Linked DNA regions of Homo sapiens: all the other regions are linked to region 1. The links come from fine-mapping of genetic effects on gene expression. A gene starts in region 1. Each other region holds a variant in brackets. All regions are shown on one strand. Distances are between the middles of the regions.

Region 1 (4,083 bases):
GTGGGGTGGCCGGAGGTCCAGTGGGCATCATGGAACACACTGGTCTGGTGGAAATTTGGCCTTCCTGTGGAATGCAAGGGCAACATCTTCAGAGAGGACGTCGTTCCTAACGGCTCCACCCAGGAACCATAAGGAAAGAGCAGGGAAGCTCCGGACTGGAGGGAATCCTGTTCTTGTCCTGCTGGCTTTTTCTCTGGGACAAGAGGCTGGGAGTGGAGTGGGGGACAGAGACAGGTGGGGCAGGGACACAGGCCAAGAGCGACTCCGATGCTCCCACCTCGCAAGACCATACTAGTGGCCAGTCACACACTTCCACTCCCCCGGTGCCCTGTCCAGACCCTGCAGTGGCCCAGGCCAGGGCTGCCCTCCCTCCACGCCACTCAGCAGCCGAGTCACCAGGCGAGCACCATCTGAATGCACCTTCCCTGTGCTACACGGGCCACTTCCATTAGCATGAAACTGGGGCCCTTGCAGGGTGAAGTCATTGAACTCAGCACTGTCCTCCTCAGGCCTCCGCAGCCCCCACTCAGATGTCAGAAGACACATCCATCCTCCATCTGCACCCACCCCACCGCCCACCTGCCCTTTGTCCACCTATCTGTCCTTCCATCCATCTATCATCCATCCGCTCAGCCACTATCTTGCGAGTGCTATTGTGTGCCCAGCTATCTTCCAAGCTCCTGGGATGTATGCATGAGCCCCTTGCTCGTGGAGCAGACATTCCCAGGGTGAGGGCAGACAGCTCAAGGTCAAAGCCAGCAGCCCCCAGGGCTGGGAGGTGAGCTGATTCCCGGAGCCAACCGAGTAAGCAGGGGAGGCGGGAGCTTAGCTGCCACAGTTGTGAGCTGAGTGGGTATCGGGTGGGACCAGAAGGTGGCATTGGAGCCAAGCCCCTGGGGAGCTGAGGAAGGGAGCACACAAGAGCCGTCCAAACAGAGGGAGCAGGGCGTGCAAAGGCCCCGAGAGGCGCCGATTGCTGGTGTGGGCCGTGGAGTGCATGGGGGTGGGGGTCAGGCAGTGGCTGGGGTCTGAGCTCCCGGGAGACGTTGAGCCTTTCCTCTGAGAGGGAGGGTCCCAATAGGAGGGACTGAAGGGGCAGGTAGAGGGCCGAGCAGGAGCCTTTGCAGGTGGCTGCAGGCTCCCAGAAGCCGCTGGTTTTGTGCACATTTTGAAAGTAGAGCAGATATGCTAAGAGCTTGGAAACCTTGTGAGCGAAAGAAGTCCACCTGCGTCCCAGGTCTGGGGCTGGAAGGCTGCAGGGTGGGCTTGGAGGAAAACAGGGGTGTGGTTTGCACAGTGGAGCCTGAGATGCTTAAGAGAGCCAGTGCTGCCGGAGCGGGCTGTGGGCAGAGGCCCCGCATCCGTGTGAAGCCCTGGGGGTATCGAATTGTTTTGGGCGGAGGTCTAAAGGCAGGGGATGGGGCAGGGGAGACCACGGGGGCCCCTGGGCTCCCATCTCAGAGCCTGGGGTGGGGGATGCTGGCTGGCGATGGGAGGGGCAGAGAGACTTACCAGCGCACCACGCAAGGCCTGGGCGCCCCCGAGTTCTGGTAAGTGGCCGGTCCGGCTGTGGAATGCAGGTTCCTGCTGAAGACAATAGCGAGGGGCTGTGTGAAGACACACCTGGGGCCCCTGTGCACCCTTGGGCCGCCCTGTGGGGTCTGCGCAGCCCCAGGCCCTGCGTTTATGAAGGAGGGTTGGGGCGAGCGCACCCACAGCTGCCCGGGCATCCCAGGAGCTGCGCGGAACCGCCTGTCCCGCTGCCCCGCGCTGTGCTCCCCACGCCCCAGGAAGGCGGCCGCGCAGTCCCGGGCTCGCTCTTGCCGCGACCTCCCGGACCTCCAGGCCGCGGGCTCCGGGGGAGGGTGGGCACCAGGGAGCGCGGGGTGGGCGTGCGCGGGCGGGGCGGGCGTGCCGGGAGCTGCGGCGGTGTCTGCGCTCGCGAGTGCGCGGCGGGGGCGGGCAGGCTCCGCCCCGGGGCGGGAGGGGGCCGCGGGATTAAAGGCCACCCCGGCGGGCGGGGATCGGACTGTAGCCGGTACCGGCACCGGAGCGCGCCGGGTCCTCGCCGGGTCCCAGCCCCGCGCGTCGGCCCAGCCCAGCCGGGACCCCCCGCGACATGCGCGTCCCAGCCCTGCGCTGAGCAGGCGGCAATGTGGGGACTCGGGGCCCGGGGCCCCGACCGGGGGCTGCTGCTGGCGCTGGCGCTGGGCGGGCTGGCGCGGGCCGGGGGCGTCGAGGTGGAGCCCGGCGGCGCGCACGGCGAGAGCGGGGGCTTCCAGGTGGTCACCTTCGAGTGGGCCCACGTGCAGGATCCCTACGTCATCGCGCTCTGGATCCTCGTGGCCAGCTTGGCCAAGATCGGTAAGTGGCCCCGGGGTCTCCGGATCTGCCCGCGGGGTGTGCGGCCGCCTCTGCTGGGCCTGGGGGCTTCGTTGTGGCCGCGCGCATCAGGTCGGAGCCGCGCGGCGGCCGCCCGGGAGAGTCCGGCTCTCGGGTCCAGCAGAGCGAGACTCGGGAGCGACTCTGGCCGCGCTAAGCCGCCCCTGCGGGTCCCGAGGTCTCCCCTCCCCGGCGGGGGCACAGCCTCGGAGCCCCGGACTCCCGGCTCCCGGGTCCCTGTGGGGTCTCCGCCCCGCCTCCGCTCCGAGCCCCGCAGACTGCAGGCTGCTCGCGCCCAGGGAGTCCCCGGGGCCGGGTTTCCTTCGGGGTTCTCAGGCTTTTTAGAGAAACGTCCTTGGAGTGATGGCGTTTTTTCGTGAGTTACAAGGGCAGAAAAGAAAAGCGGTGCTACCCGCATGAAACCCAGCAGAATCCTCCCTACAGGCGCAGCGTTCCCATTGGCGGGCCTCCTTTTTTTTTTTTTTTTTTAGAAAATCCCGGTCGGTCAGATTTCTCTTCTTCTTAACCGGCGCCAATGAACCAGTAATGTGGGCACGGCAGGTAGCTCCTGGCAAGGTGACAGGAAGGTCAGCTTCCTGAGGAGCTCGTGGGGATCAAAGTTTCATGTGTTGGTCCACAGGGTAGGGTCTCTCCAGGGGTGGCAGGGAGGTGGTCACTCGTGTGGAGGGGGGATTAGGGGGCCCGAGTGGGGCCAGGAGAAGCAAGATCAGAGCAGCAGGCGCCGCGGCAGGTTTCCAGAGCAGCTTTGGACTGGGGCGAGAGGAGGTTTCGATGCTGGGGCCGAGGAGGGGCGCCCACGCAGGACAGGGGAGGGACAGGCTCCGGGGAGAACAGCTGAGAGGACCTTGGCCTTGGTGGAACCTGGTACGCCCAGCAGGCTTGATTGGAGAAGGCGCCTTTTCCTTCAGTGACGCCTGCCGCCTGCCCTATTTATGCCAGGGTCTCCCCTCCCCTTCAGGCCCCTTGTGTGTTTGCTTTCTGTCTCATAAGGGCTCTTCTGAGCCCTCCCGCCTCCTCCCTTCTCCGCAGCCTCCTCCTCGCCCTGGTGTCTTTCAGCTCCCCGCCGGGCTGCCTGCTCTCCAGGCTCAGGCTGTCCTCCCTGGGCTTTCCACTGGGGGCTTGGGATGCTGGCCGGGGGGGAGTCTCTGAGGCTGGCTGCCTCCTACAGTTGATTTCCTTGAGAAGGGCCCCTGGGGCATCAGGGAGGTCCAGACTCAACCTGGGCTCTGCGGCCGCCCAGTCCTAAAGCTCACCCTGCTTTCCTCTGACGGGAGTGCCCCCCTGGTGTAAACTGAAAAGGTAATTTCTTTTTTTTTCTTTTTTTTTTTTTTTTGAGATAGAATTTTGCTCTTGTTGCCCAGGCTGGAGTGCAATGACGCGATCTCGGCTCACTGCAACCTCCACATCCTGCCTCAGCCTCCCGAGTAGCTGGGATTACAGGCATGAGCCACCACGCCCAGCTAATTTGTATTTTTAGTACAGACAGGGTTTCTCCATGTTGGTCAGGCTGGTCTTGAACTCCAGACCTCAGGTGATCCACCCGCCTCGGCCTCCCAAAGTGCTGGGATGACAGGCGTGAGCCACCGCGCCCGGCCGTGAATATCTAATTTCTGTACAAGCTGGGGCCTCTCCCAGTTTAGCCCAGTGTACAGAGTCAGAATCTGGCATCTGAAGGTCCAA
Region 2 (4,083 bases), 46 kb after region 1:
AGGGTGTCTGTCCGCCCCTGCCCTTCCTCCTGTGCACCTGAAGGTGCCCCCCATGTGGCCAAAGCCCCCTTGCCTGACCAGGCCTGACACCCACCGTGTCCTGAGCCACCCTCTGGAGGAGGCGGCATGCAGTTTCATATGCGTCTAACGGCCTCCATCCAACAGGACAGGCGGGAGAACGGCGGACGGCCTGGGCGTGTGGCAGGGGCTGCTTCCCTCATTTTAAACGCGCCTACAGGGTCACTATAGCAAACAAAATTCAGGAGAGAAGGGGCCGGGCCACGCGTCCGGCGGGCTCTAGGGCGCCTGTCACCTGAGGCTCACACCCAAGGTCTGTCCCTACAGGTGGTCCCACTTCGACAGGAAGTTCCTCAGCAGGGTCCTCATGAGACGGTCGGCCCAGAAGTCTCGAGACCGGATCCTGAATGTCTTCCACGAGCTGAACCTGAAGGATGCCATCAGCTACGTGGCTGAGGTAGCAGAGCCGCTTGCTCTGCCGGGTCGGGGCTGCAGCAGGCTCTGGCACTGGCTGTGGGTGCCATGGGGCAGTGAGGAGAGGCCCCTGCACCCGCGTCCCAAGGCCAGGCCCACCCCAGCAGTTCACGGGAGGCTGATGGGCCTTCTGATGCCCTGGGAATCCCAGGGGCTCTCGTGGGGTAAACTGAGTCACAGAGTCCTGGTGACTGTGGTGCTGGTGGGGGTGAGCGCTGAGGTCAGGTCCTAGGACCCCGAGCTCCCTTGCTTTCCCCAGGGATGGGAGCAGACGGTAAGCAGGCAGGCTGTTACGGGACCTGGTCCCAATACAGCCCTGCCTGCCCCAGCACACGCAGGTGCCCACAGGTGCACACGCACAGGCAGAGGGGCAGCAGCAGGGCCGTCTCCCGCTGTGGGCCGGCCATGGCTCTGAGGCTGCTCCAGCATCTCCCAGTCCACTATGAGCAGGCCTCTCAGCGTCTGCAGAGCCCCTGACTGCTCCAGAGACCAGAGGCCAGGCGCCCCACCCAGCCCCGAGGCCACTGCCGCCCTGGCTCCCGCACCTGCCCACTATGGCAGGTGGGCCTCAGCCTCCCCGGCCTGCCCTGACCTCCCCAGGGGCGCCCTGGCTGCAGGAAGTGTGCAAGGCAGGGCCTGGGGGCACAGCTGCAGGGATTCCGCAGCTCCTCCCTAAGGACAGAGCCCTCCCTAGCGAGCTTTGGTGCCCTCATCCAGCAGCCGGTCAGGGTGGGTGCTCTCGCCGGAGAGAAAGACCTGTCCTGCCAAACCCTGCAGACCCTCACACAGAGGGCCAGTGGGGGCCTGGAAACTCCATTCATTCAGACAGAATGATTCTGCCTCCACTGACGTGCATTCACCCCAGATGTGCCACCCGTGACTGGGGCCATGCCAAGTGGCAAGGCACCTCCTGGCAGAGGGCACGGGGGCCTGGGGCTGTCAGGAGGGCCAGCCAGTGCAGATCAGGAAGGAGGGCTCCTGGACCAGGCTCCACACAAACCCCCAAACCACAGGCCCGGCAAGCGAGAGAAAGCTCAGATACTCTGGCCCTAGGAGGCCTGGAGCCTGGCTGGAGGGTGGGAAGGGACAGTGGGGGCTCTGGCCTCTGGCGGGCTCCCCTCACCCCCACATAGGTGACAAGGTTGGCAGGCGGGCCTTGAGCCTCTCCCCCAACCACACCAGCCACCATCCTTGACCCACGACCCACGACCACAACCCTGGGCTCAGCTGCATGTGGGGAGCCTGTGGGCTCCTCCCGGCCACTCAGTAGCGGGGGTCCCCACACCTGGGGTGGCATCTGCCTGCCCAGTGTCCCTCCTGGCTCTCACCCAGGGC[G/A]GCTGCTTTCTCTCCCTGCGCCCCCCCACCCCACGGCAGGGCTCGGCAGGGGCAGGGGAAGTGGTGTGGGGAGCAGCCCCTCCGAAGACCCCACGTGCCCGGGTGCTGCACAGCCCTCGCCTGTGCCCGCCCAGAGTGGCAGTTAGCACCGTGGCTCCCCTGACCCTCACGTCTGTCTTCGTGGGGTGGCAGGAGCGGGACAAAGGTCATACAGAAGATGCTGGATTTAGAAGCAAAAGAGCAGGCGGAGGGCCCTCAGAACCAATGACCCTCAAATCCCCCCCGAGTGGGCAGTGAACTGGGGGCCGCATCTTCAGTGGGAACAGCGGCACCCACCTGACCCCGGGGGCTTCCCTGGGAGCATCCTGCACACTGAAGGCGGCACGGGTGCCCACCTGGCGAGGTCTGAGTGCAGTGAGCTGACGTTCCCTCCACACCCGTGCCCCTGCCGGCCCTGGGGACCCTGACTCCAGCCATAAGCCCACTCTGCCCTGTGCTCCTGCACAACCTCATGCTCTCCAGGCCCTGCCATCAGGCGGGTGGGGTCTGAGGACACATAGGCGGCCCCACTTCCATCCTCTGGCACTCAGCTGTGTGGCTTCTGTGCCCCATCGGGCTCTGCTCCGTTCTCTACCTGATTCAGTTCTGGACATGAGGCCAATGGAGTTTTAGGGTCTCCTGCAGGGACAGAGACCACTTCAATGATTCTGCAGTATCAACACTTTCCCCAGACACATCCCAAGTCCCAGGCAGCTTTACCCCTTCACACTCAGACCACTGTGTCCTCCCACAAGCATGACCTCTGCCCAGTTCAGGCAGCAGCCTGGCTGTGGCCTCAGACGGACAGGGGCTCAAAATCTGATCTCCTGGTTTTGGCATTTCCACCCCTCCCTCTGCAGCTGTGAGGCGTGAACCCGGGGCTCAGGTCTCAAGGCTTTCCCCGGGCCCCGAGCTCTGGGCGCTTCCCCCCAGGGCACACAATGGCAGCAGCTAGGGCTTGGCTGCTCAGGCCACTGACCGGGCTGCTTCCTGACCACAGGGAGAGCGCCGCGGGTCCCTGGCCTTCATCCGCTCCCCCAGCACCGACAACGTGGTCAACGTGGACTTCACGCCACGATCGTCCACCGTGGAGGCCTCTGTCTCCTACCTCCTGTATGTGGCCATGGTCATGCAGCTTCCCTGGGGAAGAGCCCAGCCTCGGGAGCTGAGAGTCACAGACAGGGCTGTGGTGGCTCCTGGCCTGGGGGTGGCATGGAAGAGGGGAGAGGTGCAGAAAGAGGGGGTGGGTGTCTCCTTCCACAAGCCCTCCTATATTAGGCCGTGGCCAGACTCCCTTAGTGCTGGATGGAAGGTGAAAGGGAGGGGCAGCAGCGGACTGGGGGCCAGGCCTGACGTGTTTGCCCCTGGCCCGCAGCAGCCTGTCCTGGTCCCCATGCCACCCTTACTGCTCCTCCGGCCCTGGGCTCCACAGCTCACAGCCAGTTCTCATAGGAGGTCCACTCTGCCAGATGTGCAGATGCTGGGGTCCCCGAGTCTTACAGCCAGGGCTTTGGAGAGGGACCAGTAAGGAAAGGGACCCACTTCAGACAGGAGGCCAGGAAGGCCTCGTGGGGAGTCAGCCTAAGCCCCGAGGGGAGAAGGGGCTGGCCAGATGGCAGATGTCCCCGTGCCCCAGCCGGGTGCCCACCATGGGAAGGCGAGGGGCACGCAGGAGGCAGCCAGGGCCAGATGCCCGCCGTGGGAAGGCGAGGGGCGCGCAAGAGACCCCACCCTGAGGGAGCCTGTATGGCTCAGCGCTGGTCCCCACGCAGGAGAGAAAATGTCAGCGCTGTCTGCCTGGACATGCAGTCTCTGGAGCAGCGACGGCGGAGCATCCGGGACGCGGAGGACATGGTCACGCACCACACGCTACAGCAGTACCTGTACAAGCCGCGGCAGGAGGTGGGCACTGCGGGCTGGGGGCTGGAGGACCCCGCAGGGACCCCGTGGGGCGGCTTCCTCGTCCCCTCCTGGGACCACGGGGGATCCGTGCTCAGCTCCTGCGGCAGGAGGGCGAGAATGTCCGGCGGTGGGCACAGCTGTGACCTCCGTGCCTGATCCCGCAGTACAAGCATCTGTACAGCCGACACGAGCTCACGCCCACGGAGGACGAGAAACAGGACCGGGAAATCTTCCACAGGACCATGCGGAAGCGCCTGGAGTCCTTCAAGTCGACCAAGCTGGGGCTCAACCAGAACAAGAAGGCGGCCAAGCTGT
Region 3 (4,083 bases), 30 kb after region 1:
TGGGATTACAGGTGTGAACCACTAAGTCCAGCCTTCAAGGAAAATTTAATTGAGTGCCTTTATTTTTCCTGCTAAAAAATTTAGCAGGAAACATGAGCAGGAATGGCTTTGTTAAGTATAACACAAAACTCAGAAGCCATAAAACAAAAGACCAATAAATTTAACTATAAAAAGAAAAGACGTTCGCATGGAGCAAAATGACAGAAGACAAAGTGGAAAGATGAGAGCAACATTTTTGAAAGTGAAAATCTACCTGCCGCTGAAGACATAAGCAAAGGCTGGATTTTCCAGCTTACGAAGAACCTCGTGTCAATAGGAAAGGATCAGTGCCCGGCAGGGGAGCAAGCCGACACTTTCACAGAACGGGGTCGTTCACGCGTCACCCACAGGTCGTCAGAGGCTGTTAGGTTGGGCCCCTCAGGAGATGTGGCTCACGCCTGCCTGGCCGGTGGGGATGGGTGCGGCTCCTCCCCCGTGGGCAGGTGGGACGGCATGTCCCATGCAGGAGGACACAGGTGAGCTCTCAACACACACACACCCTGAAGACTGCAGGAGCTGCCCTCGGACGCCACCGCACATGGGAAAGGCGTGTCCAACACCCTTTCCAACCCCGGATGGCAGAATGTTCCAAACCGCCGCCCTCCCACCTATGCGGCGTTTGTGCGTATATATGTATATTTTCTCAGTAACTACCAAGGTCAGAGGATGTTTTCTGTGGATTTTAAGGGCTTACTTCTGAGCAGGAGTGTTTGGTCTGAAGCCAGCCTGTCCCTCACCCACCAGTGTCCCAGTTAACAGGCTTTTACAGTAACCAGCGGCCTCACTGGAGCGTGGGGAGGGTCGGCGATGGCGCGGGGAGTGGAGCGTGGGGAGGGTCGGCGATGGCGCGGGGAGTGGAGCGTGGGGAGGGTCGGCGATGGCGCGGGGAGTGGAGCGTGGGGAGGGTCGGCGATGGCGCGGGGAGTGGAGCGTGGGGAGGGTCGGCGATGGCGCGGGGAGTGGAGCGTGGGGAGGGTCGGCGATGGCGCGGGGAGTGGAGCGTGGGGAGGGTCGGCGATGGCGCGGGGAGTGGAGCGTGGGGAGGGTCGGCGATGGCGCGGGGAGTGGAGCGTGGGGAGGGTCGGCGATGGCGCGGGGAGTGGAGCGTGGGGAGGGTCGGCGATGGCGCGGGGAGTGGAGCGTGGGGAGGGTCGGCGATGGCGCGGGGAGTGGAGCGTGGGGAGGGTCGGCGATGGCGCGGGGAGTGGAGCGTGGGGAGGGTCGGCGATGGCGCGGGGAGTGGAGCGTGGGGAGGGTCGGCGATGGCGCGGGGAGTGGAGCGTGGGGAGGGTCGGCGATGGCGCGGGGAGTGGAGCGTGGGGAGGGTCGGCGATGGCGCGGGGAGTGGAGCGTGGGGAGGGTCGGCGATGGCGCGGGGAGCACTGTGAGTCCCCAGGGCACAGAGTTGCGTTGTTGTTTTTAAAGACAAAGCTGGTCCCTGTGTCCCTGTGTCCCTGACTTGCTGGCCCGCGGTTGTCTGGGGTGGCTTCACAACGGTGGTGATCGCTGTGAACCTAATTTTGGAAGACTGTGGCTGAAAGACCCTAACCCTCAACAAAAAGACCCCGGGCCAAGTGTCGGCAGCCACCAAGGGTGAGGGCGTCCAGGAGCTCCGAGACTCCCGCTGCTTCCCAGGTCTGACCTGCGGCCACGGCGCCCCCC[CA/A]CCTGGGGACACGCGGTCTCTGTGGTCGCTGGATTTTATCCTCAAAGCAGCCCACGTGCCGGCGGGCACCGAGGGGCCACACGTGCCCCGCTGGCTGCTCCACAAGCGCTATTGGACAAATACCATCTCCCAGGTCTTGTGACCCTGAAAAGAGGAGGACAGGTGAGCCGATTACCCCTCCAGGAGCCAGCCTGGGACGTGGGCAGAGGCAAAGAACGTGCATCGTGTAGAAAACAGCGGCCTGGGTGGGTCTTGCCAGCGGCTGGGCAGCCTCCAGGGGGTCACCATCACCACGGCTGTGCCCGGCTTTGCTAGGCACTCGTCGCCAGCAGCAGAGGTGACGACGTCGCCAAGGACAGATGTGAGAGGCGCGGGTCAGCCTGCGGGTGGGCAGGCGCCGGCACCGGGCACAGACCACCCTGGTCTTCCTAACACAGCTTGGGACACCAAGGCGGGGATTTACAGCCCTCAGGAAGAAAGGAAGGAAGTGGTAAACTCCACTTCTCTCTGGACATTATTAAAAAAATCAGGAGGCTGCAGAGGTGGGAACACCTGCCCCAGGCCTTCCTGCACCATAGGGACCCCCAGCAGGACTCCCAAAGGCCTCGGAGCCCTTAGTGTGCAGACTCCCATGCCAGCCTAGAACCTGCTGAGTCCCGGCTGTGGAGGGGGTCCCAGGCTGCCCTGAGCAGAGGCCACAGCCTTCCCCTCGCAGGCCCGGAAGGCCACCCATGTCTCTTCCCAAAGCTCTGCGAGGCCAGGTCTGTCCCTGGCCACCACAGGGACCAGGCCGTGGAGCCCAGAGAAGAGGGGCCCCTGTTTTCCTGCTGGGCTGCCAGCCCCGTGAGCCCAGATCTGGGGAGGGCGCTGCTGAGGACGGGGCTGTCGGGGCACGCGTTAGGGTCCCAGGACTTCTCACGTGCATCACAGCCACTCCCAGCTGGGGAGCACCTTCTAGAGAAGGGAGAGCTGTGGGGAGAGAGCAAGGTCAACCCTACGGATGCTCTCCTGCTGAAAGCTGGAGCAGACGGGACCCTGCAGGCCAGCTCTGAGCGGGGCCCCGAGGACTCCAGGGAGCTCACCCTCCGTGTTCCCCAGGGACAGCCTCCCTCCCTCATTCCAGGCCAGGCCCTCCCTCATTGCAGGCCATGCCCTCCCCTGGTTTGGTTATCACTGTCGCGTGGTTCCAGCCTCCCCGGGCCAACCCCCGCTGCCCTGCCTGACAGGTGTGGAGCTCAGATCTGTGCAGGATGTGCAGCCCGGAGTGGGGGAGCCGTCGGGGGGCTCAGAGAGCCTGTGGGGCACATGGTGGGGACGGGGCCCACAGCAGGACCTCCCATCCTGAAAGCAGGAGCCTCTGAACCCCGATCCCTCCCGGGGCTGGTGTTTTGGAATCTGGAGCAGCAGGCAGAGCCGCTGTCCTGGGGACAGGGTCGGGAGACCGCAGTGCAGTGCTGGTGGCCGGGCAGGTGCGGAGCTTGTGCCTGCCACCCTCCCTAGAGGGGCCCATGCCACCCGTGGTATTTGGTGTAAGACCATCCTCGGGGAAGGAACGGCAAATCCAGAACAGCACCTCCCTCCTCTGGGCCAGCACCCGGCCCTGCAAGAGCTCCGTAATTACAAGGGAGAAAACAGGCAGGGAGGGCCGAGCTCGTCAGGGCCACGCAGTCGGGAAGGGTGGGACGTGGCCACTGCCTCCACCGCCCCTCCAGCTGTGCTGACACATTCTTCGGGGGCGGGTGGTGTGGAGGGAGCCTCCCCGCTCCCGCTGCTCTGTGCTTAAATGGGGTCTTGGCCATCTCAGGAGACAACTTTCCTTTGAATTTCAAAGAAGACTTAATAACCAGCAGCTGAGGGAATGAAGAAGCTCATTATCCCTTACATCACCGAAGCCGGAGGACGCACCTCATTTGTCAGGCTTCCCGCTATTTTGAAATCAGGCCGAGCGCAGGAATTCTCATCACCTTTTTTTTTTTTTCTGAGTCCAACTAAAACACAGGAGACATGGCCCAGATAGGTTGGTGCCTGCACCCCCACCCACAGGGCCGGGCAGAGCCTCTGAGGTCCTGGCAGGGGCGATGGTGCTGGGGGACGGGGTGAAGCTCCACGGGGGGTCCCCAGGACCTGCTGTCCACCCTTAAGCTCACCCGTGCGGAGTGGAGTGGCGGGACCCAGAGACTCTTCCTAGAACACCCCACCCAGGGGCCGTGATCCCAGGAGAGGGGCACGAGGAGAGGGGGCCACAGCCTCCATGGGGCCCCTCCGGAGGGGTCTGAAACACAGCCAGCCTCAAGTGGGAGCAGGCTCTGGCCACAACGTCAGGGACAGGGTGAGCTCAGACCTTGGTCACCAAGGCAAAAGGCACAGAGCGAGTTGGGGGT
Region 4 (4,083 bases), 58 kb after region 1:
GTAAATATTCACTTTCATATTTACTTTTACCAAAATTTACACTCCTGCCATTGCTCGTCTACCAGGTATGGCTGACTTGGCTGGCAACACCCGGTGCCAGAGGTCTGCTCACCTGGGGGTGGGGACAGGGCTTGCTGGGTGCAGCTGGTGTCTCATCTCTCAAAGGACCCAAGGAGTAACTCTGGGGATGTCAAACAGGAGGGGACCAGGAGGGCACCCTCCAGGCTGAGGGGATGTCAGACAGGAGGGGACCAGGAGGGCGCCCTCCAGGCTGAGGGGATGTCAGACAGGAGGGGACCAGGAGGGCGCCCTCCAGGCTGAGGGGATGTCAGACAGGAGGGGACCAGGAGGGCGCCCTCCAGGCTGAGGGGATGTCAGACAGGAGGGGACCAGGAGGGCGCCCTCCAGGCTGAGGGGATGTCAGATACGAGGGGACCAGGAGGGCGCCCTCCAGGCTGAGGGGATGTCAGATACGAGGGGACCAGGAGGGCGCCCTCCAGGCTGAGGGGATGTCAGATACGAGGGGACCAGGAGGGCGCCCTCCAGGCTGAGGGGATGTCAGACAGGAGGGGATCAGGAGGGCGCCCTCCAGGCTGAGGGGATGTCAGACAGGAGGGGACCAGGAGGGCGCCCTCCAGGCTGAGGGGATGTCAGATACGAGGGGACCAGGAGGGCGCCCTCCAGGCTGAGGGGATGTCAGACAGGAGGGGATCAGGAGGGCGCCCTCCAGGCTGAGGGGATGTCAGACAGGAGGGGACCAGGAGGGCGCCCTCCAGGCTGAGGGGATGTCAGATACGAGGGGACCAGGAGGGCGCCCTCCAGGCTGAGGGGATGTCAGACATGAGGGGATCAGGAGGGCGCCCTCTAGGCTGAGGGGATGTCAGACATGAGGGGACCAGGAGGGCACCCTCTAGGCTGAGGGGATGTCAGACAGGAGGGGACCAGGAGGGCGCCATCCAGGCTGAGGGGATGTCAGACATGAGGGGATCAGGAGGGCACCCTCTAGGCTGAGGGGATGTCAGACAGGAGGGGACCAGGAGGGCGCCATCCAGGCTGAGGGGATGTCAGACAGGAGGGGACCAGGAGGGCGCCCTCTAGGCTGAGGGGATGTCAGACAGGAGGGGACCAGGAGGGCGCCATCCAGGCTGAGGGGATGTCAGACAGGAGGGGACCAGGAGGGCGCCCTCCAGGCTGAGGGGATGTCAGACATGAGGGGATCAGGAAGGCACCCTCTAGGCTGAGGGGATGTCAGACAGGAGGGGACCAGGAGGGCGCCCTCTAGGCTGAGGGGATGTCAGACAGGAGGGGACCAGGAGGGCGCCCTCCAGGCTGAGCGGAGACTTTTACTCTGTGATTGACAACAGTTCCTGGGCAATCCTAGATCAGTAGTCAGAAAACCTTAACTGGAAAAGAGAATGCATGGCGTTTTCATTTCTCTGAGGAAGCCGAGAAACTTTAATTAGGTGACGGGGTTCCGAGCACTTAAGCAGATGGGGTGCGGTGAAGGCCCAGGGAGGAGGAGGGCAGGGAGGTGCACGTCCTCTGTGCCCCACACACTTTCAACCACTGCAACAAACAAGCACCCAAGAGAGGCTGTGCGGCAGAGCCCTGCACCCACAGGCCTTTGACAGCACAGTGAGGGGCCTCCGCACGTGGCCTCGGGACGCTCACTCGACGCACACCCGGTGCATCACACTGGCACCTAAAGACAGGCCGTGCAGCTAAAAGGAGCACGTGTGGCCAAGGAGAGCAATCAGCTGTCCCGCGTTTCTAAAGGCAGGGACCGAGGCTGTGGAGGGGCGAGCAGGGCAGGCCGGCGGAGGCTACTTGAGCAGCTTGGCCACGTTCAGGCTGGGCACCACAATGTCCTTGAAGAGGGGCACGTAGCTGGGGCTGGCCTGTGCTGGGCCCTGCTCCAGGGTCTCCATGATGGTCTGCTTCATGTCACGGCTGGCGTCCCCACGCACAGCCAGCAGCGCACCGATGTGGTCATCCCTGGGGATGGGGAGATGTCAGCCCATGCCCACTTAGCAGCCCTGTGATGCACCACGCTGCCAGGGACTCACGGCTTCACCACCCCAGCTGACAGAACACAGGGGGTGAGGACCGCTGCAGACAAATTGCACCTTTCCCTTTTCAGCGGGAGACAAGCCTGCATTTTCATCTTACTCTGTCTTTTCTCAATCCAATTGCAGAAAGATTTTTCAACACTGCTTTTATAAATCTTTGTTCCGGCCCAACCAGAGGGGAGACCGTGGAGAGCTCAAGACCCCGTTTTTCCACGTTTAACCAGCGAGATGATGGGACGGAGGTGACGCGGCTGCAGCCATGGAGGTGGCCCCTTGGGGAAGTGGCAGGTGCCCTGAGACAGGGGCCGC[A/G]AAGGCTGGCCTGGGGCCTGGAGCCAGCATGGTGGAGGGGGGACGTGCGTGGGTCCCCTTCCCTGGACCTGGTACTGGGGACTCCCTGTAATCACGTCCTCGGAAGGTGTCTGGTCCAAGCTGCACTTGGGCCCTCCCGAGTCCACCATGAGCACAGAGGAAACTTCCTAAACTCGCCCCACTGAGGCCACTCCACAGCCCAAATCTTCCCCACCACACACAGCAGAGCTGTCACAGCCCCGCCCCCACCCCACTGTCCCCACCCGGGATGTGCCCCTCGAGCTCCACCCACCCACACTGTAGCCCAGGCCAGGTGGAAGGCAGCACAGAAGCAGCTCTGCTCCCTGCGCCTGGGCCCCGCTGTGCCGCACCTGAACCCTTGCCGTGCTGCAGGGCTGAACTTGCGAACCAGGAGCCCCACCCGCCCCAGACAGAAGGAGGGACCTGCCGCTCCACTCCAGGATTCTAAGGCAGGATTCTAAGACGTGCATCCCTTACCTGATGTCTGGATACTTGCTGACCAGAGTGGAGACCTCCAGGTAGAGCAGAGAAGGGTCTGTCAGCTTGATCACTTCGGCCACAGCCACGATGGTGTCGCAGTATCCGTCCACGTCTTCCCCGAAACCCTGGAAGGCAGCAGCAATGTGAGGAGCCGCCCTCGGCTGTCCCGCGGCGCTGGGAGCAGCTGGATTCTGGCTGAGCCCCTTCCTGACTGGGAACCTCCCTCTTCACCTGACTCCTCAGGATCTACTCTGAAAGCTCAGTGACAGGGCCAGGGGTCTGGGGTGAGGGCGAGACCGTGGGAGGCAGCCAGCACCTCGCAGCGCAGGACAGACTGGGAAGCGTCCGTCAGGGAGCTGTGGGCGGCCTCGGGAAGCCGGCGGGGCCGGCGCGTCTACCTCTGTGGACATTCGTGTCCAACCACAAGGTCAGGCAGGACCTGGACCCAGGCTCCCCCCGCCTGACAAACACACGACACACTCCCATCTACTGGCCCGAGTCCCGGGGTGGAGGCTGAACAGGGCCGCGGAGCGACAGGCCTTCTCCAGCCCGGACCTGCGCGACACTCACGGACGCCAGCTTCCGGAACAGGAAGCGCAGCTGCTCTGCCTCCCTAACCATCTTCTCGGCACCCTCCTTGCGCTCCTCCGGGCTCCGGAAGGAAATGCGCTTCTGCATGACCGCCCGCAGGTACTCCACCACCACGCGCCGGTGCGCCTCGGCCGTCATCCTCTGGGGAGACACGCGCGGTCAGCGGCAGGCTCCACGGCTCTGGCGGCCAGGAGCACCCTCATTGAAACCCAGGCTGGGGCTCCCGGTGGCTCCCCGGAGGCTCTGAGCCCACTCCTCCTCGCTCCGCCACGGCTCTGGCATCTCACCGCAGAGGAGGAGCGGGGGCTCAGTGGGGGAACAGTGACGGTGACCTGGACCCCCGCACCAGGCCAGCTCCGGCCCCCAGCAGGACAGACGCGGGCGAGGCAGTGCCGCGCATGAGCACTCGGTCCACAGACAGGCCCGTGTCAGTGGCTGCTGCTGTCCTTTGATAACGACCGCAGCATCTGGAAAACGCGGCAGGCACTTTGGAGGAAAGAGGAACCTGGGTCCTGCAGGAAGGAGGGTCTGAAGCGGAAAGAAATCCCTGGGGCCTCAGGGAGTGAGTGGAAGGCAAGGAGCTAAGACGGGGCACGCGGGCCTCTCCGGGAAC
Region 5 (4,083 bases), 67 kb before region 1:
TCTGCTTTGGCCAAAGATGCAGGTCCCCACTTCTTGGCCGTAAAGAGAAGGTTTCCCTGGCCTGGCCACATTGCTTTTTGGTTCAGCCTCATTGCTGACTTAGGGACAACAGGAACTTATCCCCAGGAGAGGTTCTGAGGGAAGCAAGAGGCTCTGTAGCCTCTTGCCAGGGGCCCGGCGTCTCTTCAGTATGGACAGAATTGAACAAGTGAATGGCCTGCTCCTGAGTCCCACTGGCTAAATTAGGGGTCGGGCTTTGCTTTCCACCCCGAGTGTGAGTGCAGCAGCCAGGCTCCCCATCACAGCACAGGGTGGCACATGGATGGGGCAGTGCCTCTTCCACAGGAATGCCAGCAAAGCCACATCCTGAGGCCATAAGGTGGCTCCAGTGGTCAGTAAAGATCTGGCCTCGGCAACGTGTGGGACTCGTGGGACATGTCACGGAACAGAGTGTCTAATGGCAACAGGCTGGGCTGTGACTTCTGCCCTGGGCCAGGGACATGCACAGTGTGTCTTTTTGTTTTTGTTGTTGTTTTTGAGACGGAGTCTCGCTGTCACCCAGGCTGGAGTGCAGTGGTGTAATCTCAGCTCACTACAAACTCCACCTACCTGGTTCAAGTGATCCTCCTGCCTCAGCCTCCTGAGTAGCTGGAATTACAGGCACACGCCACCACACCTGGCTAATTTTTGTATTTTTAGTAGAGACGGGGTTTCACCATGATGGCCAGGCTGGTCTCAAACTCCTGACCTCAGGTGATCCACCTACATCGGCCACCCAAAGTGCTGGGATTATAAGTGTGAGCCACCGCACATGGCCCACAGTGCATCTTTAAATATTAAACAGGAAAAGAAATCAACCCAGGAAATTCCACTTCCAAAAATGGAAGTCTAGATCACCTATACCCCCCCAGATGCCAAGGATAACTGGAAAACTTGGACAAAATAGAACCATATCTGCTTGAAGGCACTGGAAACCAACCAAGTAGTGTAGACACGCCTGGCTGGCACCCAAGAGAAATGCGACTGTAGGTGGGTGAGCCTGGGATCTGGGTGTAGACAAGCCCGGCTGGCAGCCAAGAGAAATGCGATTGTAGGTGGGTGAGCCTGGGATCTGGGGACATGCCTTCTGTGGGCCATGCCAATTTCAGGAGCAGTGGCTAAAAATCAGTGCCATCCTTTTGAAAGTACTTTGGGGTCGGGGGACAAGTGTTGGCACAAAGACCCAGGAGGAATAAAGTTTCTGCTCTGTATCCCCTGCTTGGGAAGAGAACCTATATAGCTCTTCATGGGGATAAAAGGTAAACTGAGGTCAACCAGCCTGCCAGGGGCCGCAGCCCAACTCCAAGTCATCTGGGAACTCCAGGACCCCCCTGTCCCTGATCCTGGGTTACAGTGTTCCCAGACCAATGGTGTGTCCAGGTGGGGAGGCACAAAGCCTTAAAACTCTGCTTACTTTCTCAGCTGGGAAGCAGATAGCCTGGGGCAGGTTTGCAGCCCTGCTCACCCACTGCCCGGAGACAGACTTTGTGCTGTTGGGAGTGGGGGCGAATGGCAGGAGTGAGACTGGCCTTGCTGGCTGTGTGGGAGTGGGGTGAAGCCTGTAACTGCCTGCTTCCCCACACTTCCCTGGCGACCTGTATGACA[C/T]AGCAGAGGCAGCCATAATCCCTCTGGGAACATAACTCCATTGACCAGGGAACCACGCCCCATCTCCTACAGCAGCTGCAGCAAGCCCCACCCAAGGAGAGGCTGAGTTCGGACATGCCTAACCCTGCCCCCACCTGGTGGTCTTTCTCTACCTGTCCTGGTAGCTGAAGACAAAGGACATAATCTCCTGGGGGCTCTAGGGCAAGCTTGTATCTTCTCTATAAAACCTCAGCTGATGCACTCTTGAAAGCACCACCTCCTGGCTGGAGGCCAACCTATACCAAACCAGCGCACTTAACAACGCTACCACCAAGGACCCTCAGAGTCCACTTCACTCCCCTGACACCTCCACCAGAGCAGGTGCTGGTATCCATGGCTGAGAGACCTGAAGACAGAGCACGTCACAGGACTCTGTGCAGACACTCCCCTGTACCAGCCTGGAGCCCAGTAGCTCCACTGGGTGGCTAGACCAAGAAGAGCAAAACAATTACTGCAGTTCGGCCCTCAGGAAGCCCCATCGCTAGAGGAAGGGGGAGAGCACCACCTCAAGGGAACACCCTGTGGGACAAAAGAATCTGAACAGCAGCCCTTGAGACCCAGATCTTCCCTCTGACATAGTCTACCAAATGAGAAGGAAGCAGAAAAACAATTCCAGTAATATGACAAAACAACATTCTTTAGTACCCCCAAAAGTGCATGCTAGCTCACCAGCAATGGATCCAAACCAATAAGAAATCCCTGAAGTGCCAGAAAAAGAATTCAAAAGGTCTATTATTAAGCTAATCAAGGAGTTACTAGAGAAAGGTGAAGTCCAACTAATGAAATTTTTAAAAAATGATACAAGATTTGAAGGGAAAAATCTCCAGTGAAATAGATAACATAAATAGAAATCCACATGTTAGACACACTGTAGTGAACTACAGAAAACCAAAATAAAAATAAACATCATAAAAGCAACCAGCATACAAAGTAAGATTACTTTAGAAGGAGCAAAAATTTGATAGACATCCAACTTCTCAGCAGAAACAATGGAAGCCAGAGGACAATGCAATAAAATCTTTAAATGGTGTAAGAAACAAAAAATAACTCCCAGTCTAGGATATTACTCCAAGTAAAAATATCATTCAAGAACAAAGTTAAAATAAAGCTATTTTTATAACAAAGACAAAAGAAAACAAAACTGAGAGAACCACAAAGATGCTGGCAAAGCAGTAGGGGGAAGAAAACGATCTTTTCAGAAAATGGTCAGTTTTACGTCTCCTCCCGTGGAGACATGGATGAAATGCAACCTCCACCTGTCATGGGCCCCCCCTCTGAGCCCCAAGACAACAGCTAAAGCTGGCAGGTACCCCTCCTCAGAGGTCTTGATTTTAAAATAGTAGTAGTTCCAATATTTCCCCTTTGTTCCTCCAGCCACAGGTGTAGTAGCTTCCTCTAGTAGCCTCTACCTTCAAGATATCTTTCAGTTGCCTGCTAAACTCCAAGCCTGGTTAACAATCCTTCATTTCAGTTTTCTGTGTTTAAATAATTGCTGTGGTTTCTGTCTCTTGATTGTGCCCTCACTGGTATGTGGGGTTCATGACAACCTGTCATTGACTAAAATGGCAATCTATATTTTCCAATATAAATAATATATTCATGACAACACATCAACATTCTTAATAAGAAAATTCTTTTAGGATACCAGGGGAACATATCTAATTATACCTAACACTCCCTTGTTTGGTGACAGGAAACTCTGGAATTTTATGGAAAATACTATGACCATGATTCATTAACTTATTTAAAAAGCATTTATCACCCTAAGAATATTTTTGGACTCTTAAAGGCAAGGATTGTGCTTTTTCCTTTGGAATTTTGTGGACTAAAATAGAAATGGGAATTAGAGACAAAAATCCTGATAACAACTCTATCACTAGCTAATTATGTCTTGTATCTTGGGCAAGTCTCTGTCCCTCTCATTTAGGCAAGTTCCTTCCACAGCAAAATTGGAAAATTAAACAGTGTAATTGTTCAGGTCTTGTCAGATACATGACTTTTTGCTATAGCATTCAACACATTAGAAATACATCAGGCAGCCAGTAAATGTTTACAACAGAAGTGATATGGTTTGGCTGTGTCCCCACCTAAATCTCATCTTGAATTGTAGTTCCCATAATCCCCACATGTCATGGGAGGGACCTGGTGGGAAGTCATTGAATCATGGGGACAGTTACCCTCATGCTGTTCTCATGATAGTGAGTGATTTTCACAAGATCTGATGGTTTTACAAAGGGCTTCCCCCTTCACTCTGCACTTCTTCTTGCTGCTGCCATGTGAAGAAGGACATGTTTGCTTCCCCTTCCACCATGATTGTAAGTTTCCTGAGGCCTCCTCAGCCTTGTGAAACTGTGAGTCAATTAAACCTCTTTCCTTCATAAATTACCAAGTCTCAGGCAG
Region 6 (4,083 bases), 22 kb after region 1:
GAGCTGGGCACGAACACCCCTTCCCCTTCAGCCCCCACGTTTAGAGACAGTGGCCTCACAGCGCTGAGGGGTGCAGGTCCCGGTGCCCATGGCCCCAGAGGGAGGCACTGCCCAGCAGCTGAGGGTTTGTCTGCTGTCCCCACCCCGAGCCCTCTGGGCTCACCCGGGGGTGACAGGAGGAGGCAGCGGGGCCGTGAGCCCGGGGAGCCTGAGATCTGGCCGCTTGCTGTGTGGTCTGAAGGTCCCGGCACCCTCCCTGGCTGCCGCCGCCGGACACACTGGAGGAGGCTGTGGAGTTCTCTCCCGAGGGCCAAATCCAACGGCCCCTGCAGCGGCTCAAGGTTCAGCCAGTCCTGGACCCTGCATGTCCACCGCCCTGGGCCCTGGCTGCAGCCCCGGGGGGCTATTTCCTCACTTTACAGAGGGGAGCCTGAAGCAAGGAGGGCAGGTCACACCTCCTGGGTGGGTCACGGGACGCGGGGGCTGCAAGAACACGGGGAGACGTGTGCCCCTTGGGTTCCCGGGGGTTCCGGAGCTGGCGGCAGCCCCACAGCGATGCCTTCCGGCACCTTCCCTCCCCAGGCGCCTCATATAGGACGCTGTCTCCTTGCTGGAAGCTTCTGCAGAAGCTTGTTCCCTTCCCTTGTTTAGTTGTTGATAAACCAAAGGCAAAAACACGGGGAATGCTAAACTTCCGTGATTGATGAAGACGGTTTCATAATTTCTACTTTGAAGTGAATGATTTTATAAGGGCAAGAGAGAAGAGAGGGTGAAGTGTGAGGAAGGTGGGGGTGGGTGGGACCCTGAGAATCCAGGCACCGGGTGAAGATGGGAACCCCCCAAGAGCTCTGGGGGCCCAGTCTTCTGTCCAGAGGCCCCAGCCTCGCGCAGACGATTCGCCGATTCAGGAGAAACCACAGCCGTGGATGAGATTTCCAGCAGACACGCCTTCCTTGCCCATTTCATGGAACAAGAAGAAAGTTCTTTATTGGTAACTCACACACATTATACAGATGGAAAGATTCTCCATTTGTTTTTGATTTTCAGCAGTCTGACTGTGCCGTGCCCACAGGCAGGATTTTCCCTGTACTTGCATTGCTTGGAGCTTGCAAAATTTCTCAAATCTATAAATGTGTGTCTTTCACCAAACTGGGGACATTTTTTACCATTCGCTCTTCAAGGTTTCCCCGCCCCATTCTCCCTTCCTTCCAGAGCTCCAGCTACACATATATCAGGCCTTTTTCTGGGCAAGGATGGGGGCCTCGCTCACTGTCACCCAGACTGGGGTGCAGCCTCAACCCGCCCAGGCTCAATGGACCCTCTGGCCTCAGCCCCCTGAGTAGCTGGGACTATGGGCACAAACCACCAGGCTCAGCTAATGTTTTAATTTATTTTGTCGAGAAGGGGTTTTGCTGTGTTGCCCAGGCTGGTCTTGAACTCCTGGGTTCAAGCGATCCTCCTGCCTTGGCCTCCCAAAGTGCTGCGGCTACAAGCTATTGATTTTGCCCCACAGGCCACTGAGGCTCTGGTTACTTTAAAAACCATTTTTTCTCCTTGGTCTTCCGATGGGATGATTTCTTCTGATCTGTCTTCCAGTTCACTCTCTTTACTGTCATTTCTGTCTGCTCGTAAGTCTATCCATTGAGTTTTTATGTCAGAGATTCTAGGGTTTCTGCTTGGTTCTCTTTGATAAGTTCTATTTTAGGCATCAGCAAACTACAGCCCGTGGGCCGGCCACTGGTTGTTGTAAATAAAGTTTCACTGGAACGCCCATCTGTGTCGTTACAGCGGCTTTCGGCCTCAGTGGTAGTGAGTGGTAAAGTTTCACTGGAACACAGCGCCCATCTGTGTCGTTACGGCGGCTTTCGGCCTCACTGGTAGTGAGTGGTAAAGTTTCACTGGAACACAGCGCCCATCTGTGTCATTACGGCGGCTTTCGGCGCCCGTCTGTGTCGTTACAGCGGCTTTCGGCCTCACTGGTAGTGAGTGGTTATGAAGTGATCCTCCTGTTGGCAGCTTGCAGGACCTAAAATACTCACAATCTGCCTTTAAGAAAAAATGTGCCAAGCCCTGTTCCACTCCACCGCTGCGGCTTGTCCTTTTTAAGTGGTTATGAGAACGTTTCTTTTCTATCCTTGAGCTGCTGTTTTAGGCCCTTGTCTGCTGATTCCAGGGTCTGACCATCTTGCGTTCTCCTCTGATTTGAGCTGGGCCACATTCCCACTTCACGTGTCTCGTGACTTCCGTTGCCCCAGGACGTTGCGACCGGTGTCTTGCCGGGGACTGTGCTCCGCTGCGGCCCCTGGTAGGCGCCGCTGGGTCTGCGGTAGCTGAAGCTTGTTGCTGCT[T/G]TGAGCAAAGCCCTGAGGTGGTGGCAGCTGGGATCTGCATCCAGGTCTTTCCTCTGCTGTGGGCAGCTTGGGACCTGCCTGTGTCTGTCTGTTCTCACGCTGCTAATAAGGGGGCCTGGGCCGTCTCTGGGGGTGGGGGGCCGGAGCGGCTGGGTCCCAGAGAGGAAGGGGTGTGGGGTCTGCCCAGCGTCCTGGACAGAGGCCGTGGCTGGCTCAGAGGCTGCGTTCATTTTGCCCCAGCGCGGTTGCTCAGGGTGGTTTGGAGTCGAAGGATCTCCTGATTCTCTAGGGAACCGTGGGCAACATTCATGTTTCAATTTAAAAACCGACCAGGTTTGCTCGAGTGTTGTAAATGTACAATGTGTAAAACGCCTTGTGACTTGAGCGCAGGGAGTCCAGTCCTGAACGGGCTGTTGTTCTTGGAGCTGTGTGAACTTCATCTGGCAGGAAGCAGCTTCCCGGCCCGGGGGCCCGGCCTCGCTCGGAGAGGGGCTTCCTGCGTGGCCCCCGGGAGCCGGCTCCCCTGTCCCACGCCAACCTGAGTACTCACGGGGAACTGCACCCGCAGGCAGGGACGCGTGGGGTCACGCAGGCACGTCTGCCAGGCCGCACGGCGGACCTCCGTGAGCACCTTTACCTCCGCCCTGGGCTTGACGGCCGACACATTTACCGTGATTCCTCGCCGGTGCCCCACAGGCGGGTAAAGTGATACTGAGGTCAGAGTGTGCTGGCGAGCTCTGCTGGACCTGCAGGGGCGGGTGGCAGAGAACTCAGACCCACAGCTGTGCTAGGAGAACAGGGTGGACCCTGTGCGTGTCTCCTCTGTGTGTCTCTGCACGTCTCTGCGTCTCTGCGAGTCTCTGTGTGCGTGCACGTGTTCCTGCATGTGTCTGCGCCTGCCTGTGGAATGCCCCGGCCCCTCGTCCCCCGGGAGGGTGGGTACCTGTGCTTCCGCCCTCCTTCCTGGCCTCACCGCCCCACCGCTCAGCCAGGCTGTTTCTGGGAGGCAGAGTTTAATCCTCCGGGACGTGTTCCTGTTAAAGTAAAACCACAGGATTGACTGCGCTGTTGCATTTTTGTGGACTCGGCTGAATCTCTGCCACCTTGAAAGGTCCTTGGAGGTGGCGGAGGCCCTGGGCCTGACCAAGCCCCGTCCCTCTGTGCTCCGAGGGGTGTGACATGCATTGGGCCGTGGCCTTCCTGAGCCCCCCGGGGCCCAGAGAGAAGCCCTTTCCGGCGCCCATCCGGAAATGTCTGGTTTGCCAGCGCCGGCCCTTCCTCCTCCAGGCACAGGGTTTGTAATTAGAACTAAAAGCGTCTGTCCCCTGTCGTAACCATCAGGCCACCAAGCCATTGTGTGCTTAATTAGCTGTGACTCTCCAGCCTCGGCAATCAGTTACCTGAGGGCCTGCGTGTCCCCAGGTTTGTCCCCTTGTGTGGAAGCCACACGGGCTGTGGCAGGCGGACTCAGGGCCTGGCCCTGTCCACACCGGCCCGTGTCCACACCAGCCTCGTCCACACCGACCCCATGTCCACACTGACTCTGTGTCCACACTGGCCCCATCCACACCAGCCCCGTCCACACCCACCAGCCCCATCCACGCCTGCCCCATCCACACCAGCCCCTTCCACACTGACCCCATGTCCACACTGGCCCTGTGTCCACACTGACCCCGTCCACACCAGCCCCGTCCACACCCACCAGCCCCATCCACACTGGCCCCATCCACACGGC

The links. PIP is the estimated chance that this variant, and not a neighbour inherited with it, causes the effect.
Region 2: its variant is fine-mapped to the expression of SLC9A3 in subcutaneous fat (TwinsUK, PIP 0.95).
Region 3: its variant is fine-mapped to the expression of SLC9A3 in esophagus mucosa (GTEx, PIP above 0.99).
Region 4: its variant is fine-mapped to the expression of SLC9A3 in thyroid (GTEx, PIP above 0.99). The same link has a PIP of 0.9 or more in adrenal gland.
Region 5: its variant is fine-mapped to the expression of SLC9A3 in whole blood (TOPMed, PIP above 0.99).
Region 6: its variant is fine-mapped to the expression of SLC9A3 in unexposed skin (GTEx, PIP 0.99).

The regions. Positions count from the first base shown.
Region 1 is chr5:522,393-526,475 of GRCh38, reverse strand. SLC9A3 (solute carrier family 9 member A3) reads left to right here and starts at 2,027. Exons shown (of 17, transcript NM_004174.4): 1 at 2,027-2,364. The coding sequence starts at 2,154. It overlaps LOC107986395 (a long non-coding RNA gene), which reads right to left and starts at 1,818. Exons shown (of 2, transcript XR_001742543.1): 1 at 1,513-1,818; 2 at 1-64. RefSeq lists an enhancer at 1-460.
Region 2 is chr5:476,228-480,310 of GRCh38, reverse strand. SLC9A3 (solute carrier family 9 member A3) reads left to right here. Exons shown (of 17, transcript NM_004174.4): 10 at 346-475; 11 at 2,867-2,979; 12 at 3,639-3,768; 13 at 3,933-4,083. It overlaps SLC9A3-AS1 (SLC9A3 antisense RNA 1), which reads right to left. Exons shown (of 7, transcript NR_125375.1): 3 at 3,748-4,079; 4 at 2,975-3,067; 5 at 2,462-2,505; 6 at 95-529. Among named protein-coding and RNA genes, the nearest start is that of SLC9A3-AS1, 5.0 kb to the right of the region's middle. RefSeq lists an enhancer at 1,978-2,147. The variant G/A (reference allele first, on the strand shown) is at 1,828.
Region 3 is chr5:492,714-496,796 of GRCh38, reverse strand. The region is part of intron 1 of SLC9A3 (solute carrier family 9 member A3); the gene reads left to right. Among named protein-coding and RNA genes, the nearest start is that of SLC9A3-AS1, 22 kb to the right of the region's middle. RefSeq lists an enhancer at 332-855. The variant CA/A (reference allele first, on the strand shown) is at 1,702.
Region 4 is chr5:464,639-468,721 of GRCh38, reverse strand. EXOC3 (exocyst complex component 3) reads right to left here. Exons shown (of 13, transcript NM_007277.5): 11 at 3,450-3,611; 12 at 2,877-3,004; 13 at 1,432-1,995. The coding sequence ends at 1,824. Among named protein-coding and RNA genes, the nearest start is that of SLC9A3-OT1, 6.3 kb to the left of the region's middle. The variant A/G (reference allele first, on the strand shown) is at 2,379.
Region 5 is chr5:589,884-593,966 of GRCh38, reverse strand. No RefSeq gene overlaps it. Among named protein-coding and RNA genes, the nearest start is that of CEP72-DT, 20 kb to the left of the region's middle. The variant C/T (reference allele first, on the strand shown) is at 1,645.
Region 6 is chr5:500,685-504,767 of GRCh38, reverse strand. The region is part of intron 1 of SLC9A3 (solute carrier family 9 member A3); the gene reads left to right. Among named protein-coding and RNA genes, the nearest start is that of SLC9A3, 22 kb to the left of the region's middle. The variant T/G (reference allele first, on the strand shown) is at 2,349.